Linked DNA regions of Homo sapiens. The protein of the gene in region 3 interacts with the protein of the main gene of each other region in a biochemical or structural test. Each region holds a gene or a part of one and is shown on either strand. Other genes may lie near its edges.

The links.
Region 1: the proteins of DFFA (region 3) and TRPV4 interact in a test that uses a peptide from one of them, tested with the Homo sapiens proteins (one large-scale study listed by BioGRID).
Region 2: of the proteins of DFFA (region 3) and CASP3, one has a biochemical effect on the other in vitro, tested with the Homo sapiens proteins (one study listed by BioGRID).

Annotation. Positions count from the first base shown.
Region 1 is NC_000012.12:109,785,340-109,788,398, forward strand, and holds part of TRPV4 (transient receptor potential cation channel subfamily V member 4), read right to left. Parts: intron 1,558-3,059; coding exon of another isoform or gene 1,537-1,557; exon of another isoform or gene 1,499-1,536; coding exon 1,371-1,498; intron 1-1,370. UniProt on the Homo sapiens protein: Non-selective calcium permeant cation channel involved in osmotic sensitivity and mechanosensitivity. Activation by exposure to hypotonicity within the physiological range exhibits an outward rectification.
Region 2 is NC_000004.12:184,639,346-184,642,999, reverse strand, and holds part of CASP3 (caspase-3 isoform a preproprotein), read left to right. Parts: intron 1-3,654. UniProt on the Homo sapiens protein: Thiol protease that acts as a major effector caspase involved in the execution phase of apoptosis. Following cleavage and activation by initiator caspases (CASP8, CASP9 and/or CASP10), mediates execution of apoptosis by catalyzing cleavage of many proteins.
Region 3 is NC_000001.11:10,465,957-10,469,610, reverse strand, and holds part of DFFA (DNA fragmentation factor subunit alpha), read left to right. Parts: intron 1-272; coding exon 273-434; intron 435-2,278; coding exon 2,279-2,421; intron 2,422-3,654. UniProt on the Homo sapiens protein: Inhibitor of the caspase-activated DNase (DFF40).

The DNA.
Region 1 (3,059 bases), on a different chromosome or scaffold from region 3:
TTTTGTTTATCCACTCATTTTTTTATATATTATCTTTTTTTTTTACATATTATCTTTAATTTTTTATCCTATCTATTCATTTTTGTTTGTTTGTTTTAAGGCAGAGTCTTGCTCTGTCCGCCAGACTGGAGTGCAGTAGTGCAATCTCGGCTCACTGCAACCTCCACCTACCAGGTTCAAGCGATTCTCCTGCCTCAGCCTCCCGAGTAGCTGGGATTACAGGTGCATGCCACCACTCCCGACTAATTTTTGTATTTTTAGTGGAGACAGGGTTTCACCATGTTGCCCAGGGTGGTCTCAAACTCCTGACCTCAGGTGATCCACCCACCTTGGCCTCCCAAAGTGCTGGGATTACAAGCACGAGCCACCACACCCAGCCAAGATTTGAGCTTTGGATTCAAACTGAACAGAGGCTGGGTGTGGTGGCTCACGCCTGTAATCCCAGCATTTTGGGAGGCTGAGGTGGGAAGATCGCTTGAGACCAGGAGTTTGAGACCAGCCTGGGCAACATAGCAAGAACCCCATCTCTACAAAAAAATTAAAAATTGGTCGGACATGGTGGCATGAGGAGGCTGAGGTGGGAGGATCGCTTGAGACCAGGAGTTGGAGGCTGCAGTCAGCTATGATCACACCACTGCACTCCAGCCTGAGCAACCCTGCCTCTAAAAACAAACAAAAAATGGAATTGAACTGATCGGATGGCCTAGGAGGTGGGTTCTATTATTGTTCCCATTTCACAGATGAAGAAACTGACTTTGTCTGACTCCAAACATTCTGCTTATGCTCCATGCTGACAACCACTTTACAATGAATGAATCAACTGGAAAGAAAAGATTCATGAAGGGGTTCCCCTAAGAAGCTGGCACTCCCTGTGCCTCTGGAACACGGAGTCATTCTGCAGATGGGCTGGGTGAGGTCTCCAGCCCTGGAAACTGCACATTCCTCAGCTTCCCATTTCACCGAGGGCACTAGAGCTCACCCCACTGTTTGGTAGATACAGGGTGATGCTCTAAAATGAACCCACCATCCAAGTCTCTGCTTCCCCCTGAGCAAGAACAGGGGAGCCTGTGGCGTCCCGATGCGCGTCGGGCACTGGCTGAGCACTTCTCACGTGCTGACCTGTCTAATCCGCACCGCCAGCCTAGGAGCCCGTGAGATCATTGTCTCATTCCACAGATGAAGAAACTGAGGCTGAGAGAGGTGGGCTGACTTGCCTGAGATCGCCTGGTGGAAATGAACTCTGCTCGGGCCTCTTGGGGCCTCAGTGGCTCCAGAAATTGCAATGGGTAGACGACGCTGGAGCAGCAGGGGCCCCGAGCCAGTGGGGACAGTTCCGCCCTGCCATCCTGGCCCCACTGCCCCAGCCTCACCTGAAGCACCACCTGCGGTCAGGAGTGCCGTCCGAGCTCTTGCCCACGGTGACCATCTCCCCAGAGCGGAAGGCCTTCCTCAGGAATACGGGGAAGGAGCGCTCAATGTCCAGGATGGTGGTGGCCCACTGCGGGGAGGGAGGGTCAGGAGGGACATCGGTGAGCCTCACAGCCTGCGCCTGCCGCTCTGGTGGCAGAAATGAGACAACGGGCCAGGGTGGGCCCAGAACTAGGCATTTAGACTCCTACTCCCCACTAGACACAGGGTTTATAAACTCAAATACCCACAGGTGGCAGGCAGGAAAACAAATGGGTGAAACAGGATCAGGTGCAGAAAGGCTGCCGCCCAAGCCCTATCACACTTACACAGCAGTTGCCTCTCAGTGAGGGAGGGGTAGAGACTGGGGAGAACAGGGAGCAAATGCCCACGTGTAAGGGGGCAGCTGCCACTCACCCCACCTGAGGGCTGCCAGGCAGGAATCCGGACCCTGCACTGCCTGGAGCTTCCAACTTTTCAAGAAAAGCCAGAAATCTGGGTTTTCATAGGGAATCTCTTAATTTTTAAATTTTGCAGTTTTTTGTTGTTGTTGTTGTTTTTAATATAATGGTCTGATGCTGGGTGCAGTGGCTCACACCTGCAATCTCAGCACTTTAGGAGGCCAAGGCAGGTGGATAGCTTGAACTCAGAAGTTCAAGACCAGCCTGGGCAACATGGTGAAACCCCATCTTTACAAAAAATACAAAAATTAGCCGGGTGAGGTGGTGCACACCTTAGCCCCAGCTACTCGGGAGGCTGAGGACAGAGAATCACTTGAGCCTGGGAGGCAGAGGTTGCAGTGAGCCAAGATCACACCATTGCACTCCAGCCCACAGGATGCCCAGTTTGCATCCTGTGAGTAATGCCCAGTGGGGAAACTGAGGCCCAATGAAGTAAGCAATATAGATAAAGGTTAAGAGCAGGCCAGAGCTGTTTCCCTCAGACCCAGTCCTGGGAGGACAACCTTGGGCCCTTTTTTCTCACTGCACCATTTTCCTGAAATGCACAGTCAAGGTAAACACGGGTGCTGTATTCCTGGGCCGTGGGGCAGCACTGTTTATTAGGACACCAGGTTTGTAGGCTGCACCTGGCCTGGGAGGGCTGTGATCCCAGGGCCTGTTCTTTCCAGGATTGCATAGAAAGCTTTTGGTAAGTAAAAACTTTCTGCAGCTCCCCGGGCCAAGGCGGCCCCTGTCCCCATTGGTTTCTCCTCTAGGAAGCATGCTCACAGTTGCTAGAAAAAGACCCCCATGAGAATGCTGACATCCCTGTGCTGGAGTGCTAGAGCACAAAAGCTGCCCCTGGGCTCAGCGTGGGACCCCTGCTGAAACGCTGATGCCCACGGAGCACTTTCTGAGCCGGCAGAAGTCACTCAGTCATGCTAGGTGGAGCCGACTGTGTCCTGTGAGCTGGACCACAAGGAGAATCTGAGCCCACTGCTGGCAGCCAGGCAAGAAGCCACCTCAAAATTCACTAGGCAGCTCTGGGAAGTCAGCAGCAGCCTCTGATGCCCATTTTACCGACAGAGAAGTGGAGGGAGAATGAGAAGACACTGCTTGCTCAGAGTGGAAGGCCGAGGAAGCCAGTCGGGTGGGTCTCCTCGGAAGGACGAGGGTGGCTGGTAGAGTGGGGCTGGGGGCCCTGGGGCCTCA
Region 2 (3,654 bases), on a different chromosome or scaffold from region 3:
AGTACTCTGAAAAGCTGGTCACTATTTAAAGTTTCCATTACCAGTCACAAGGAGAGAATAATTTTATCCCACAATTTTATTGCTGGCAAAAGACACAAGTTTATTAAAAGTCAGTATTTCAGTGTAAGAGTTACTAGACTGTTTGCAGAAGTGTTCAAAAGAGATCTTTAGGTCCTTGGTTGTCTGTGGAAGCTGATCAGCATTTAGGGGTTCCTGAGCACAGACTGTGAACCCTGCATTTGGCACATGCATTCAGAGAGCCAATTTGAGGCAGACTGGGGGCTAGAAAGGATACTGCCAGGAGCTCCAGGTTCAGCTTCCGAAGTTATTAAGTCTTATTTCCCAGTTTTTAAATTAGACTTCATTTTTTAGAGCAGTTTTAGGTTCAAACCAAAATTGAGAAGAACGTACAGAGACATCCTGTATCCCACCTGCCCCCCAACACGTGCGTAGTCTCCCCCATTATCAACATCCTGCACCAGAGTAGTACATTCTTACAAAGGAACCTACACTGACACGTCATCATCACCCAAACGCCATCGTTCACAATCAAGTTCACTCTTGGTGCTGTTTATCCTATGGTTTTGGACAAATTTACAAGGACTTGTATCCACCATTATATTGTCACACTGAGTAGTTTCACTGCCTTAAAAAGTCTCCGTGCGGGCCGGGCACGGTGGCTCACGCCTGTAATCCCAGCACTTTGGGAGGCCAAGGCGGGCAGATCACGAGGTTAGGAGTTCGAGACCAGCCTGGCCAACATGGTGAAACCCCGTCTCTACTAAAAATACAAAAATTAGCCTGGCATGGTGGCATGCGCCTGTAATCCCAGCTACTCAGGAGGCTGAGGCAGGAGAATCGCTTGAAACCTAAAGGCGGAGGTTGCAGTGAGCCGAGACCACGCCACTGCACTCCAGCCTGAGCAAGGAGCGAAATTCCATCTCAAAACAAAAAAAAAAAAAAAAAAAAATTCTCTGTGCTGTCTCCCTCCCTCCTAGCCACTGGCAACCACTGATCTTTTTACTGTCTCCATAGTTTTGCCTTTTCCAGATTGTCAGATAGTTGGAATCATGCGGTATATATGGCCTTTTCAAACTGGCTTCTTTCACTTAGTAATAATGCATTTAAAGTGTTCATGGCTTGCTAGCTCATTTCTTTTTAGTGCTCAGTAATATTCTGTTCTCTGGATATACCACGGTTTATTTATTCATTCACCGACTGAAGGACATCTTAGTTGCTTCTAGTTTTGACAGTTATGAATAAAACTGCTATAAACATCTGTGTGCAGGCTTTTGTGTGAACATAAGTTTTCAACTCCTTTGGGTAAATACCAAAGAGTGCGTATTTACCATATGGCTGGATCATATGGTAAGAGTATGTTTAGTTTTGTAGGAAACTGCCAAACTGTCTTTCGAGTTGGCTGTACCATTTTGCATTTCCACGAGCAGTGATTGAGAATCCCTGTTGCTCCACATCCTCACCAGCATTTGGTGTTGATGGTGTTCTGGTTTTGGCCATTCTGCTAGGTATGTAATGATACCTCATTGTTGCTTTAATTAGCATTTCCCATTATTTGCAGTCTGTGTATCTTTGATGAGGCCCACTGGATTTTCACTTTAGATTTTCTATAGATTGGCCATAAAGTCTTGAAACAAAGATATTTTCTCATGGATTATAATGCAATATCAGTAAACTATTATGTGTTCACCTACGTTTCCAGACTTGTTAGCTACCCTGTACTGTTCTCTCAGTTAATCAAGTTAACCACAATTTGTTTCTCAACCACAGGTGGCTAATGATTTTGTATGTGGTCTGTCCGCTTTGAATTGATGTGCATGGGGCAAGTTGGTCTCTATGATATTCATGGTTCAAGGAAGTTCGAGATTTCCTGGTACCTAATACATGTTTATTGTACATATGAAAGAAAAAAGGGCAGATAGAGGGGAACATGGTACTGAGCATGATAGAGGCAAGGAAGGGTGGCTACTTTGATAGGAGAATACCCCTATTTTTGTCACTCTTGAAACAGGGCCAAGAGTTGAAATTGGCTAGAACAATCCTGACCTTTGTTGATATTATTTTATAGAATAATATTTGTTACTGTTTTCTCACTTTTAAAAAATGCAGATGTTATAGAAAAATTAGAAGATATAGAGGAATGTTAAGGAGTAAATAAGGTGTCAGTAATGCCATCACCCAGACAGCCACTGTTAATAAATATGTTAATATGTGAAGACATACTAATATGTAATATGTACTGAGTGACTAATGGCAGGTCACTTAGTAGCTGTCTCGATTATCAGATCAACTGTCATGGTATGGCAGTGTTTATGTTCAGGTACCCGTATTAGTTATTGTTGTTAATCCCTTTCTGCGCCCAAGTTATAAACTAAACTTTTTCATAGGTATGTACGTATAGGAAAAAATATGCTGCATATAGGCTCAGTACTGTATTTGGTTTCAAGCATCTACTGGGGGACTTGGGAGGTACCCCCTGCCCCTGCCCCACAGGTATACTACTGTATAATTATTCTTCTATCTAAAGTAAGATCTAATGGAAGATAGGAACTTTGTCTTGTCTTCCACTCTGTCCTATTTCCCAGGATGATACCTGGCACAAAGTATTTGTTTACTGACAAACTAAAAGATGATTTATCCCAATTATACTCACATCTTCCCTTGATTTTCCAGAAAGCCTACAGGAAGTAAGATGGTAGAAAAGCAAAGTCTTCGTAGAAATGCAGAGCATAGACTGGCTCTTGGAGAAGGTCAAACATCACCCTCTCCTGTGGTTAAATTGAGATGGTGGCACTGGCTGTCTTCTATATTATTGCTGCACCTTTCCTCACCAGGGGTGCACACAAAACTGGGAGAGAGGGGAGGAAGGAGCTTAGCTTTGTCTTAATAGAAGGGAAGAAATGATGTTTTCCAAGAGACCTTGAAATTGGGGACCTTGGTAAAGGTTTCAGTTTGGGAAGATAAAAAAGTCCTGGGATGGATTCCAACAGTGTAACTGTACTCAATGCCACTGAGCTGTACGCTTAAGAGTGGTAAATTTTATGTCTATTTCACCACAGTTTTAAAGATTAAAATTTTTAAAAGTGGGGGAAGTTACCTAGGACTTTCTAGAAGGACTTTTGAGGGTGAGCAAGTTCTGTTATAGGCTTGTGTATTATTTTGGTATTTCTGATTTTATCATAGGAGTGAGGTTAAAGTTGTATTTTGACTGGAATTTTTGACATTGTCAGGGTTTCTAGAGTGTGGAGAAGGTCACTCAGTATTTTTTGTTTTTGTTTTTTGTTTTGCCTTTGTTCTTGTTTTCCTCTATTTAGGGAGGTGGATTGCCATGGGAAGTACCTTTGCTTCGAAAAGCCAGAAAATGCCTGGTAGAACTCCAGAAAAGTAGTAAGGAGCTGGCTTCTTCAGAGGCAGCATAGCAGAGTGGGAAGAGGGCCCTGTCACTTAGATTGTGACTGTCGACAAAGTCACTTAACCACCAGAAGTTGGGTTTTCTGACGTTTAGAATTTTGAAAAGATTAAAACTGAGTGCCTTGCAAAGTACCTGGTATATATTAAGTGCTCAATAAGTGATAGTTGCTTTGATTCTAAGAACTGGTTCACCTTGTGAGATATAATTGTGTAATGGAAGAATGA
Region 3 (3,654 bases):
AGGCAGAGGTTTCAGTGAGCCGAGATCGCGCCAGTGCACTGCAGCCTGGGTAACAGAGTGAGACCCTGCTACAAAAAAAAAGAAAAGAACACTTAGAACAGAATCAGGCACGTGATGAGTGTTCTGGTAGTGCTAGAAGTGATGATTGTGATTCTAGTTATTACCTACCAGGAGTTCTGCTCAGCTCTGGAGCCATACATACTTGAGATGCAGGGATAGATGTAATTTCCTTACGGTTATTTGTCATTTGCCAAATATTTTATTCTTTTCAGCCTGTGACATTCTGGCCATTGATAAGTCCCTGACACCAGTCACCCTGGTCCTGGCAGAGGATGGCACCATAGTGGATGATGACGATTACTTTCTGTGTCTACCTTCCAATACTAAGTTTGTGGCATTGGCTAGTAATGAGAAATGGGCATACAACAATTCAGGTAAGAAACTCTAGCCATGTATAAAACGGCCTATGCAGTACAGCATCCATCATGATTACTTTCACTGCACAGACAATTGCCATTTGTCTGGCTTTTTAAGCATTTGTTCAACAGATATTTACTGAGCACTTTCTATGTGCCAGACATGGTGCTGAGTCCTGGGGATAAAGATGAATGAGGCCAGGCACGGTGGGCAGATCACCTGAGCTCAGGAGTTTGAGACCAGCCTGGCCAACATGGCGAAAGTCCATCTCTACTGAAAATACAAAAACTAGCTGAGCATGGTGGCAGGCACCTGTAATCCCAGATACTTGGGAGGCTGAGGCGGGAGAATTGCTTGAACCTGGGAGGTGGAGGTTGCAGTGAGCTGAGATTGTGCCACTGCACTCCAGCCTGGGCGACAGAACGAGACTCTGTCTCAAAAAAAAAAAAAAATAGATGAATGAGACATGGGCCCAGTTCTCAACTAACTCATGGACAGACAGCAACTGAAATGCAGCCTGGCAGGGAGCTCAGTGCTGCAGGCTGCAGTCCAGCTGTTGAGGTCTGGATCCTGGCTCTACCATTTACTAACCAGGTGACCTTGTGCAAATTACATAACTTCTCAGTGCCTTGTTGACATAATAATTATAGAACCTGTCCCCTAAGATTGTTGTAAAGATAATATAGTACATATCAAACCAGGGTTTCTCAATGACACTGCTGACATTTGGGGCTGGAGTTGTGAAGAGGATGCTTTGTGTATGATAGGACGTTTAGTAGCATCCTAGATGTTACGAACCTCCCCCCACAACTGTGATAACCAAGAATAAATGACTCCAGATATTGTCAGATGTCTCCTGGGGGGCAAAATTGCTCCCACTTGAGAACCACTGATATGAAGTGTTTAGATCTTACCTGGCACATAGTTAAGGACTCAATAATTGTTACCTGTCCCTGCCATCATCATCATCACAGGAGATAGAAAGGGGACTAACATTGGTGACCAAGGATCAAGAAGTGTCTTGAGAGGGGATTAGTTTTAGGGAGGGACTTAAAAAAAAAAAAAGTGTCCTGAAGTGTGCCACAAAATTGAGGAAGTCATCCTACAGCAGTGGCCCTACCAGCCACCTTTGTGCTCAGGCCTAAGGGACAGCAATCGATGGCTACAGCTCTGCCAGTTAAAGAAGGGACCAATCCCCAAGCACAGAGAAATGCTGGCACAAATGACCGTTTTCGTATAAAAAACAGGACACACCTGGACACACAGAAACCAGAAAGGGAAGTGTGATTGGATTCCTTGTAGGTGTGACCACACATTGGGTTTAAATGGCTTTTTCTATGGAAGAATACAGAGCCGTTGCACACAGAGATAAAGATGAAAGAGGGTCAGGCACGGTGGCTTATGCCTGTAATCCCAGCACTTTGGGAGACCGAGGTGGGCAGATCACTTGAAGTCAGGAGTTTGAGACCAGCCTGGCCAACATGGTGAAAGCCCGTCTCTACTAAAAATACCAAAATTAGCTGGTCATGGTGGTGGGCACCTGTAATCCCAGCTACTTGCAAGGCTGAGGCAGGAGAATCGCTTGAACTCGGGCAGTGGAGGTTGCAGTGAGCCAAGATCGTGCCACTGCACTCCAGCCTGGGCAACAGAGTGAGACTCTGTCTCAAAAAAAAAAAAAATGAAAGAAGAGGGAAAATCAAGGTCCTGGATGGATATTGACCCTCCTGTGAATCCTTGAGATAAGATGCTTCTTTCCCATTGAAATTAATCTAGATCCTCAAGAGGTCTGTGTGTGCTGGGGGAGGAGGTGAAAACAGCACTTCAGGTTGTTCTGTGACTGGCATTTTCTCCCATGTGTCAGATGGAGGTACAGCTTGGATTTCCCAAGAGTCCTTTGATGTAGATGAAACAGACAGCGGGGCAGGGTTGAAGTGGAAGAATGTGGCCAGGCAGCTGAAAGAAGATCTGTCCAGCATCATCCTCCTATCAGAGGAGGACCTCCAGGTAAAGCCTCCTCCACAACCTGCAACAATGTTCATCCAGCCTCTGCCCCCCGCCCCAGCACCTTCTTAGCTTCCATACTTGCCATAGCAATTTCTTTGTTTTAATCTTAATTTTTAAATAATTCTTAAATTACAACTAAGATTTTTCATCTTCTCATTCTCACCTAGAGTAATTTTTCAACCCTCGTCACGAAGCAGAATTACCTGTGGATTTTTTTTTTTTTTTTTTTTTTTTTTTGAGACACAGTCTTACTCTGTCGCCCAGGCTGGAGTGCAGTGGTGCAATCTCAGCTCACTGCAGTCTCCACCTCCCGGGTTCAAGCAATTCTCCTGTCTCAGCGTCCCAGGTAGCTGGAATTACAGGTGCACACCAACACGCCTGGCTAATTTTGGTATTTTTAGTAGAGACAGCGTTTCATCATGTTGGCCAGGCTGCTCCTGAGTTCAAGTGATCCACCTGCCTCAGCCTCCCAAAGTGCTGAGATTATAGGCGTGAGCCACCGTGCCCGGCCAGATTTTTTTTTTAATACAAATGCCTGGGATCCACCCTAAACCTAGTTAGGTGGACGCTGGGGTCAGGGATGCCCTGCTAGAGAATGTAGCGTTGGAGTAGATGGCTTCACATCCCAGCGCTGTCACCACGACTTTGAGCCAGTAGCTTAGCTTCTCTCCTTGTGTTTTCTCTCTAGTAAGATTGGGATAGGCCAGGTGCAGTGGCTCACGCCTGTAATCTCAGCACTTTGGGAGGCCGAGGCGGGCAGATCACGAGGTCAGGAGATCGAGACCATCCTGGCTAACATGGTAAAACCCCATCTCTACTAAAAATACAAAAAATTAGCCGGGCCTGGTGGTGTGCACCTGTACCTGTAGTCCCAGCTACTCGGGATGCTGAGGCAGAAGAATCGCCTGAACCCAGGAGGTGGAGCTTGCAGTGAGCCGAGATCGCACCACTGCACTCCAGCCTGGGTGACAGAGAGAGACTCCATCTCAAAAAGAAAAAAAAGATTGGGATAAAAACAGTATGTTTTCATTCAAAGAAAATTTCTCTTTGAGACAGGGTCTTGCTTTGTCACCCAGTGCAGTGGCATGATCATAGCTCACTGCATCCTCGACTTCCTGGGCTCAAGCCATCCTCCCACCTCAACCTCTCAGGTAGCTGAGACTGTAGGCTTGCACCACCACACTGCGCTATTTTTTCTTTTTTTTTTTTTTTAATTTTTGTAGGCCAGGTGCA